2 separate regions of the Homo sapiens genome follow, and region 2 is linked to region 1. The links come from fine-mapping of genetic effects on gene expression. A gene starts in region 1. The other region holds a variant in brackets. All regions are shown on one strand. Distances are between the middles of the regions. Region 1 holds the start of FAM216B (family with sequence similarity 216 member B). Region 2 has its middle 7.0 kb from the start of LINC00428.

What was found. PIP is the estimated chance that this variant, and not a neighbour inherited with it, causes the effect.
Region 2: its variant is fine-mapped to the expression of FAM216B in monocytes after R848 (Quach 2016, PIP 0.95).

What each region holds. Positions count from the first base shown.
Region 1 is chr13:42,778,402-42,783,786 of GRCh38, reverse strand. FAM216B (family with sequence similarity 216 member B) reads right to left here and starts at 2,203. Exons shown (of 4, transcript NM_001318932.2): 1 at 2,123-2,203.
Region 2 is chr13:42,877,088-42,882,472 of GRCh38, reverse strand. No RefSeq gene overlaps it. Among named protein-coding and RNA genes, the nearest start is that of LINC00428, 7.0 kb to the right of the region's middle. The variant T/C (reference allele first, on the strand shown) is at 2,161.

The sequences.
Region 1 (5,385 bases):
ACTGTTTGGAACAGGTGTGTTGTAGAGCATACTATTTTTATAGTAGTAATTTTTTGATAATTTTAAATAATATTGATTTTCATATCTGATTCTAAAAGTAATATATATTGTTTTGGAAGATTTGGAAAAATTTAAAAATTGAAGAAGAAAATAAGATTACTCATACAAGTTGAGCATCCCAAATCTAAAAGCCCAAAATCTGAAAAGCTCCAAATCCAAAACTTTTTTAGTGCCCACAAGATGCTTAAAGGATATGTTCATTGGAGCATATTGGATTTTGGATTTTTGAATTTGGGAGGCTCAACTGGCAAAGATAATGTAAATTTTCCAGAATCAAAAAAAAAAAATCTGGAATTCAAAACACTTCTGGTCCCAAGCATTTTGGATAAGGCATACTCAACTTGCATCTAACTATCCATAATTATTGTTAGCATTTGGTTGATTTCCTTTTATTTGTTTATTTATTTATATGTTTTTTTGAGACAGAGTCTCACTCTATCATCCAGGCTGGAGCACAGTGGTGCGACTATAGCTCACCGCAGTCTTGAACTCCTGGGCTCAAGCCATCCTCCCACCTCAGCCTCCTGAGTAGCTGGGACTACAGGTACACACCCCACACCCAATTATTTTTTAAATTGTTAGTAGAGATAAGATCTCCCTATGTTCCCTGGGCTGGTCTCAAACTCCTGGGCTCAAGTTATCCTGCACCTCAGGCTCCCAAAGTGCTGGGATTACAGGTATGAGGCACCATGCTGAGCTTCACTTTCCTTTTATTTATTTATTTTTTTTTTCTGTGTACATTGTGTGTAATTTTAGAAAAGGGAGATCATAATTTATACATTTTGTGCACTTTCTCAGATCATTAAATATTCCTTAAAAATATGATTTTTAGTGGCAGTGTAGTATGCCTTTACGTCATTCTCCACTTCTTGCAATTTAGATGTGCAATTTTATAGCATTGTACTATAAAACTATTAAACTTGTCATGTTTCCACTTGCCTGAGAAAGATACAGAATAATAGAGTCACATTTGCTATGATTAAGTCTCCTTTCCTGGTGATTTAGGGTTTAGAGTCTGAAGTGTGTATAATAATATGAATTTAACAATCCAGCAAGAATAGACATATTGGAATAGGTTGCCAAATCACAAAGTGCAAACCCAGAGTATTTTCCCCTCTGCTTACTCCTTTGTCTTTGTTAGCAGTGTGAATTACTGAATGATAGAAAGTAAGACCACAGCAAATCAAACATAGTAACAATCTGCTAAACGTAGATTATTATTAATACCTGCACGTATATTAACTGAAGAAAATAAACTGTAATAGAGGCTGTATGGCCTTTAGAACTAGAAAGACTTGAGTTTCTTTCCTTCTGTAAGCCTCAGCCCTCTCATCCTTAAGACAGCAGTTACAATGCCTACCTCACTGGGTGTTTGATTCACTGAAATCGTGAATATAGAATGCTCTCACTTTATGCCAGTTTCTTCTCTCTCTACCCGACCTTCACGCATGTTCATGCACACAAACACATGCACACTCATAGGTTCATAAACATACACATGCTTAAGGAGTATTGTAATACATGTGGAGACTGATTTGAGTTCACACATCGAAGGTTCCATTCTTCCAGAAGAGAAATTTATTAGGAAAACATTAGTCAACATCTCTGTGTGTACTGTTTCTGCTATATAAATGTCTAAATTAAACTGTAAATATTTTAGTCAGTACTGCTTTCCTTTAATGTGCACTCCAGAAACCATACCAACCAAGATATACTCCTGTAATATTCTCTGTGATTGACACCTACGCTCTATCCTGTACTCAAATCATTTCAATATCCCTCCTCCCATTTTCCAGATCTGTAGAACAGAGAATAAATATGCTTCAAGCTGGAAAGATTTCTTCTCTCCTCAAATAGCATAAAGAAATGACTGATGCTCTTTCTTATGGCAACAATTCATGTGTGCTTTTCTGGGGCTACTGCTGAATAAATTTATCTTACCTATTCAAGTGGCCTATACCTGATAAAATTTGATTAAAATACTCATGGAATTCAGGGAGAGAAACATCTACAAAATAATATATCTGAAACAAAAAGACAGATTTGCCTAAAAAGAACTTACCCTATACTGTAGTTCCCCCACTTTTAAAAGCTGCCATTCCTATTCAGTGTAGTTTTCTTACGCGGACTCTGTTTATATGCTGGTGGTGGTGGTGGAAGTCTGTTGATAAGCTGATATCCAAGCAACATCATGTGATGAAACAAAGAGCTGGGGAAATCTGGCTGCATGCCTTTCTTCACTTCTGGGTAACATTCAGCTACACAGTTTGATATTTTTTCTTCCACATTTTGTGTCTAATCAAGTGTCATCTTCTAAATCTACCATATCTGTGTTACATGCAGATATCGGGGGTAACATGCATAGAGGCAGAGATTCTAAATATTAAAGGTCAACAAATCCATCAGGGCAATGGGCCATGACATAAATATTTCCAAAATTTGGAGTCAGTAGTCCCCTTCCTCATTGCTCAGGATGATGAAGGAAGAGTTCCTGAATATAGAGGTATGGGCATGAATTTGCCTGTGGTAACCTATGAAATTATTCCATAGTTTAAGCTAAGTTCCCTTTCATTTTGTGGGGGAATAAGATATTCTCCATATTTTATCTTAATTAGAGGCTACATATGATGATAATTAACCTGTGGCGTAAGACTAGAGCCCACACTGACCTCATCCTTTCTTCTGTGATAGCATTATTCTACTGGCTTCCTTTCTTTCTCAAGTGTCCTCCTTCTGAATGCCAGCTTATCTGCAAAGATGAAGAGTTCCTAAAGAAAAGGGAAGAAGAAATATCAAAAGAAAATACATTCAAAATTCTTAGGAGACTAAGGGGAAGAAAAAAGCAGGGAGATGAGAGTGATGAATCATATGCCTTAAAGAAGAAAGGGCTCAACAGATGCAAAAGTCTTGCATTTTTTCCCCAGTAATTTGAATGCAGACCTCCTGGGAAATAAGCACAGCACAAACAAGTGTCTTTAAATGCCAGTAAATAACATAAAATCTTTCACTGGATCTGAGAGGTTGATGATTCTTTACCAAGAGATAAAGAACAGTGGTGTGCAGAGTTGACATTGTCAATCGAGTCTTCCTCAAACGTTTTTCCAGGATATGATGAAATTCATTCTGGGTGCACTGCATCTGCTGATGTTGCACACACATGCTGAAATTCCTACCAGCTTGCCTTGGACGCTACTCAATCAGGAGAACAGTAACAGATCTGTGTTTGACAGAGGGCATTTAATGTAAGGAATCTGTTATGAAAATATAGAAATGGGTTAGAGGAGTAAAACAAGAAGGGTTAGGTTATCCAAGGACTGGCAATTGCACTAAACTGTGATTGCACATAGAGCTGGAGGACAATAGGGAAAATGATTTTACCCACAGCCCATGGACACTGTGCCATAGAGGCTGCTTCCTTTGGAGAACTGCTGCCTGAGCAGCGCCTCAGGAACCTGTGCTCACCAGGCACCCTTGCTTCTATGTTCTTGCCCAAACTGCTAATCTTGCTGTTGCTGTCACCACTGTTGCTGTCCATGTGGCTGCTGCTGCTGGCACTGCCACAGGTGCAAGCAGAAAGTATTTTTAAAAAATGGCTTCTTCCCTCCAGCCTTCATTCATGTCCTGCCCTCCATTGGATGCCAGCTAGCAAGGGATTTTGGGAAATGTATTTTGCAGTCTTCCTACTACTCTGATAAACAGAAGGGTATAGAAGAATCAACATGAGGCCGACAGATGGTGGACACTCTCTAACACAAACACAAATCTAAGAGGTACCTTTGGGACCTATGAAGTCAGGCAGGAGGATGAAGGACTTAGACATACAGTCAATGTTTACCTAACATCACTGAAAGTTGTCAATTTATAAGAAAAGAGGAAATAAGATAAAACTAGCTATGTAGATGGTATCAAAGAATGAGATCTAAATTTGTAGACATATTTTAAAATATAAGAATGAGGGAGTAATGCATATCCTAAGTTTGGGACAAAAAATGTTTTCCCAAAGACTAGTTTAACATTTCAAAAAGGATTTAAACTGATTACAAAAAAAATGGGAAAGAAACACCCATAATCTAATTACTATAGGGAATACAATGTCAACTATTAGTAGAAAAGTTGTACTATTTCACAGTTAAAATATTGGTACAGCAATGAGACTCACTGCTTAAGACATTGGCTGTTTAGAAGGTGGGTGATAAAGTGTTTTCATGGAATATCAGGGTAAATGTGACCTCATGAGTGATACCAAGTGAGGAAGAGGGACTCCTGATTGGAATCCAAGATGAAGTTAAACTCTAATTCAAAGAAACCCACCTGCTAGAGGGAGAGTGCCACTGTACATCATGGAGGTACACACTTTCCCGAAAAACTATGAACCCGGAAGGAAATGCTCTGCTCACATCCTTTTGCCAGGATCCTCTTAGCTGCAGAGATGTCTGTGAGGTTGTCTCTGCCAGGCACAGACATGCTGCTTGACTATCCAAGCCCTCAGAGGACCTCCATGCTCCTTAAGGAAGAGAAGGCAGTGTCCCTCTCCCCACTCTACTGCTGTTTATCCCCTGGACTCTACTTAGTCTTCTAGAGTCTTGGTTGAATTTCATTTCCCATTGAGCTATGTAGTCCCTTGAGCTCAAATTTTTTGGTGGGGGAAGAGGAGTTAGTTATTCCTAATTATCTTGTTTTTTCTTTGACCTCTTCATAGAAAACCCCTACTTTTCTGAGATTCCAAAACAAAAGCTGTCATATACACCAAACCTATAGGAGCCACTGGTCACAAAAATAGGGATATTTAGAGTCAGTCTTAGTTTGGATTATAAGAACCACTTTTAGTGAGTGAAAACTACTTGGGACACTTAGAAGCAGTGATTATCGGCAAAAGAAAAACTGGATGTGGTCAGATACGTGCTAAGACTTTGGAAAAACAGATTTCAAACAATTCGGGAAAAAAGTCTAAAGTGGACTTGAGAAGGGAATATCCAGAGATTTAGTTTCAACCCTATAATCTCAAATAAAATCTATAGAAGAAAGAGATAAGATATCAAAAGATTTGCATTTCTCTGATGGCCAGTGATGATGAGCATTTTTTCATGTGTTTTTTGGCTGCATAAATGTCTTCTTTTGAGAAGTGTCTGTTCATGTCCTTCGCCCACTTTTTGATGGGGTTGTTTGTTTTTTTCTTGTAAATTTGTTTGAGTTCATCGTAGATTCTGGATATTAGCCCTTTGTCAGATGAGTAGGTTGCGAAAATTTTCTCCCATTTTGTAGGTTGCCTGTTCACTCTGATGGTAGTTTCTTTTGCTGTGCAGAAGCTCTTTAGTTTAATTAGAT
Region 2 (5,385 bases), 99 kb before region 1:
TCAGGACTTTGTAAATGACTAGATATAGATGGAGACTGATGAATCAAAGATGAGTTTCATATTTCTAGCCTGTGTAAATACATTGATGGTGATGTGGCCATATATACAAAATTTATAGTATTTCAGAGGAAGGGAGATTTGATGTGGTCAATAAAGAGTTTCAAAGACTATAGAATAAAATTCCATGAGCTCGGGGACATTGTTTTGTTCAATGCTGTATTCCCAGTTCCTTGAACAGTGCCTAGCACATAGTAGTGATTCAATGAGTATTTGGTAAATGAATGGATTTGATAAAAGAGGAAAATTTTTACAGATGGAAAGAAATAAGTATGGTGGTGGCTGGTGAAGGATTGAGTGCAGGGACATTTAAAGCAGCCACAGTGGTGCAGTGATGGTGGTAAGCACGTGTTTGGGGGACATTGAGGAAGAAGAATGTTCAGGCTAGAGTAACTCCATCTTGTATACTAATTGGCCATGTTGACTTCTGATTAACCCCAGTTCCGAAAATGCCTCTAAAATTTCTATTTTATCTACTGTTAAGAGTGTATAATTACGAATAATTCCTGCCCTTAGGTCAAAACAACCTTGATGTTATCGTAAACACATATATCTTCCCCTTAGGCAAATTCCCTATGATTTGTAAGCCCTGGGTCTGTGGGGTAACAGTGTACTGTAGGGATCCACCATTCGCAGCTGCTTGAGATATGGCTTCTGTTCATAAATCCCTATTATTTCATTCTGAGAATCTGGACTTGTCAGCTTCTTTCTTCAGCTCCTCACCTTCCCTGGCCTTTGGAAGTAGGTTTGTATAGGCCTGCTCACCTCGGAACACACACACACACACACACACACACACACACACACAGAGAGAGGGAGAGGGAGAGAGAGAGAGAGAGAGAGACTAGTGTGGTTGTTGCTTGGAAGTGGGAGACAAGATATAGGAGAGGAGAAACACCCTGGAAGAGAGCTTCTCTCAATGTTTTGGAATTTGTCCCAGTTAATTGGCCAACCCCAGGTGTGATAATCAAGGATAGAAAGATTCTTGGGATAAGGATATCATATTAAGCTAATCAGTTATGAATAAACCTAAACCCCGCCAACAGCAGCTGCTGATGCAAACCAAAGGGCTGGCTTTGCCCCTTTACAGGCAATGCCTGTCCTTTAATCCCTGCAGATGGTTAGCAATGCCATGAGCCATAGCATTTTGGAAAAGAAAGGGGAACCACGGGATTTCTGGAAGATATGAGAATGTAGCTCTGCCATTCACTAATGTTGAAACCTTGGACAAATCTCTTATCTCCACCTTACCTCACAGGATAGGTTGTAGACAAACTGATGGGATAAATGCTCTTAAAAGGTAAATGGGAATGCAAGGTAGGAGAGTAGCAAGGGAAATACTATATTAGTTTTAAATGAAAAGATACTTTCTCAACTCCTTTCTTTATTACTAAAAATGTTGGTCCTTCTTTCTTCCTACCTTATCACCATTTTCTAGATCACCTGGCCATGTATACTTACAGGCCTCAACAGTCTTCCTTCCTTCTCATAATTATCCCTGCATAATTCATTGGCAGGGATTATCAATTCTACCACCACAATATCTTTAGCAACTTTCCCTTTTATTTCAGGCTCACTACCATCCTCTTTAATTGGTTTCTTGTGATGTTTTACAGAGACTATTGTCAGAAAAAACCATTGGATCTTTTTGCCTCCTGCACTTCACTTCTATGGTATAAAGGAATCTTTTGAGGAAGTGCGTGTGTCGTTTTAAGGTTTGTGCTAGCCAAGCAGGGAGGAGGCTTGGAATGCTAAGACAGGTACTCAACAATTGGAGAAGGCAGGTTTTAATGAATTCAAGAAAAGATTGTTTTAATTCTATTTCTCAAGAGGAAACTCAAAAGAATTGGTAAGCTTTCAAAATTATAATTCTATCTTTGCAATCACACATGTTGTTCATGCTGCAGACAAAAGGAAAAGACATTCGGAGCCAAGGTGGCTGCACACTCCCACTGAGAAACTCGGATTTTAAAAAGATGTGCCAAAAAGTGGAAAGAGGCACGCTGCCAAAGATTGTGTTGAAGAAAGGCAGGGACCAGTAACAGATCAGAAGGGCCAAAGACCAGAGTGAGCTGAGGCTTAGAGAAAAGAAAGTAAGGATAA[T/C]GGAGGGCTCTTAAATTTAGAGCAAGAATAAGGAAGGAAGAGGCTCGCTGCCTGAGGCCAGTGGTGTGATGTTGATGGATGACATGAAGAAAACAGAACTCCTTTCCTCCCATTTAGTCCTGTCTTCTCTGTCAAGGAGAGTGATCTTTGGACTGAAAAGGGTAGAACGAACATTGTTAAGAGAAAATTGAAGCCCAAGATGGGTGTAGAGATTATGCGAGAGCATGCATCCGCTGTAAATGAGCCGAAATGTCTGGATCTGAATGAATTACAGTGCAGAGCTCTGAAAAACGTGCGAATGAATTCTCCCTACTTAAGAGGAGGGAGCTTTGGAGGTGGAGGAGGAGAGAAAAGTGAAACCTCCCTTGCAAAAATTGTAACAGTGAGAAAATTATGGCAGTGAAAGAGATCTGATTTAACCAACCCCCATCTTGCCTTTAGCCTTCAAACTGCCCTTAATTATCCCTTGGCTTGGGTCTACCTAGCTTTGGGAGACATTTAGTTTATAGGTTAAATTGCCGGGCACGGTGGCTCACGCCTGTAATCCCAGCACTTTGGGAGGACGAGGTGGGCGGATCCCGAGGTCAGGAGATGGAGACCATCCTGGCTAACACGGTGAAACGCTGACTCTACTAAAAATACCAAAAATTAGCCGGGCGTGGTGCTGGGCGCCTGTAGTCCCAGCTACTCAGGAGGCTGAGGCAGGAGAATGGCGTGAACCCGGAAGGCAGAGGTTGCAGTGAGCCAAAATCACGCCACTGCACTCCAGCCTGGGCGACAGATGGAGACTGTCTCAAAAAAAATAAATACATAAAAAATAAAGAAATAAAAATAAATGATAATACCCTCCTCGCAAGCTTAACCACCTTTGCAAAGCTAATGAGAAACCACCAGACTAGTAGGAGGATAGGAGCCTGAATTCTGCTAAGGTGTAGGCATAAACGATGGCCAGCCATTATTCCGGAGGTCACAAGATATGCTACTTCCCAATTACTCCTGCAGACAACATCACTATTTTAGAACCTAAGATTGGCTTTTGAGATGTCTTTTCAAGTTTTTTGTATGTCTGACACTGATGGCTCCACCTGGACCCACTAGTTGCTCCTGTGACCCCACCCAGAAGTGACTCAGTGCATGAGGACCATTTCCCACACTTTTATGATTGTACCCCCACCAATCAGCAGCAAGCACCCATTGCCTAGCTGTGCCCCCGTCTCTTTATCCTTGAAAAACCCTAGCCTTCGAATTTTTGAGGAGACCAATTTGAGTAATAATAAATTCCTGTGTCCTGTTTAGCTGGCTCTATGTGTGTAAAATTCTTTCTCTATTGCAATTCCCCTGCCTTCATAAATTAGCTCTATCTGGGCAGTGGACAAGAAAAACCCACTGGGTGGTTATAAAAGCAGGCCAACTGGAGACAAGCCAAGTCCGTGACCTAGGAACTGTAGAATCCAGTTTTGGAAAGCACCCTAGGTATCTATTTTAACCATTACCCAATGCATAACTAAATGTACATGTAGAGATGGTTTATGAAGAGTCAATAACTATTATGATAGGCCCAGCTTATCTGTCTGTTATTTGATTCTCTTCCCTTAATGCTTAGTCCTTAATGTGGAGATTGTTTTACAGTTGTCAAAATCATCTTTCTCCTTTTCTTTTTTTCCTTCCTTCCTTCCTCTCTTTCTCCTTCTCTCTTTCCTGTTTCTCTTTCTTTTCCTTCCTTCCTTCCTCTTTCCACAAACATTTGTTGAGTGCACACTATATTGGTGTTGTGTAGGAAAATAACACATAGCTCTTGCCCTTAGGTGTTTATAGTTAATTACAGGGAAAACCATCTTTTAGTTTTTACTTTTTCAACATGTGGTGATTAAGTGCAGAAAGAGCAAGTAAAAATGTAAGATGAGGAGCTTAAATCTTCCTGTCGAAAATAAGGGAAGAAATTTCTCCACTCCTTTTTTCTCTTTCAGAATGTTTTCCCTGGCCGGGCGCGGTGGCTCACGCCTGTAATCCCAGCACTTTGGGAGGCCAAGGCCGGCGGATCACGAGGTCAGGAGATCGAGACCATCCTGGCTAACATGGTGAAACCCCATCTCTACTAAAAAATAAAAAAAATTAGCTGGGAGTGGTGGTGGGCGCCTGTAGTCCCAGCTACTGGGGAGGCTGAGGCAGGAGAATGGCGTGAACCCAGGAGGCGGAACTTACAGTGAGCCGGCGATTGCACCACTGCACCTCCAGCCTGGGCGGCAGAGCGAGACTGTCTCAAAAAAAAAAAAAAAAAAAGTTTTCCCTGTCCTTTTCTATGTATGTGAATCTTTTTAGTGGCTAAATAAGCCTCTGGGCTACCTCACAATCTGGAGTGTTTCTTCAAGGACCTGGACGTCCTCTCTTCCTTGATGTAATCATCAAGGAAGCTAAGGCTTTAGCTTCCGGTTTCCTAAGAGGAGAGGGGTGTAACTTCAGTTGTTGTCTGACTCCAAATTGCAAAGCCTAACTAATGGTAATGGGTTGTATCCCCTTAGCTATAAAAGAGTGAGAGTTCTTTCTGGTCTTTGCCATTTCTTTAGCAGATTGCCTGTAATGTGCATCACTTTCTGGTTTAATGCTTATTTAATAATAAAATAGTTTTCCTTTTACCTTTGTAGAAAGCTTTTCTGGGTTAGGAGGACATTTCGTTTTTAATTATATTTTCCCAGGAGTGCTCACTATGTGCCAGGCACTCTTCCAGGCACCAGAGATATAGCATTAAATAAGACAGAAGCTGCCCTCATGAGCTCATATTCTAGGACAGATAGACACTGAACAGTAAGAATAATATCTAAGGAAATCATGCAGGCAGCACATTAGAAGGCGGGGCGGGGGGGGGGTGGTAAGTGCAGTAAGCCATGTGTAAACAATCGAGTGTGATGAGCTGTGTAAAGAACAGTGGGAGTTTAAAGGAGAGAGAGGTAAGTTATCCTGGGGCAGTTGAGGACTTGATGTTTGAGCTGAATCTTGAAAGATGAATGGTTTTGAAAATAGCTCATTGCTTTAGGGGAGGAGTGGAGCTGGTATTCTAGGAAGTGGAAGATATTTGATCAAAGAAATATACATGACAGCAGAGTACATTAGGGGAAGTCTGCATAATCAGCATCTCATTTGATACCATCAACAACCAGAGGCAGAGATTTTTTTTCTTGTTCTTCCTTTTTCTCTCTTCTCCTGCTCCTTTCTCCTACTCTCTTGTAA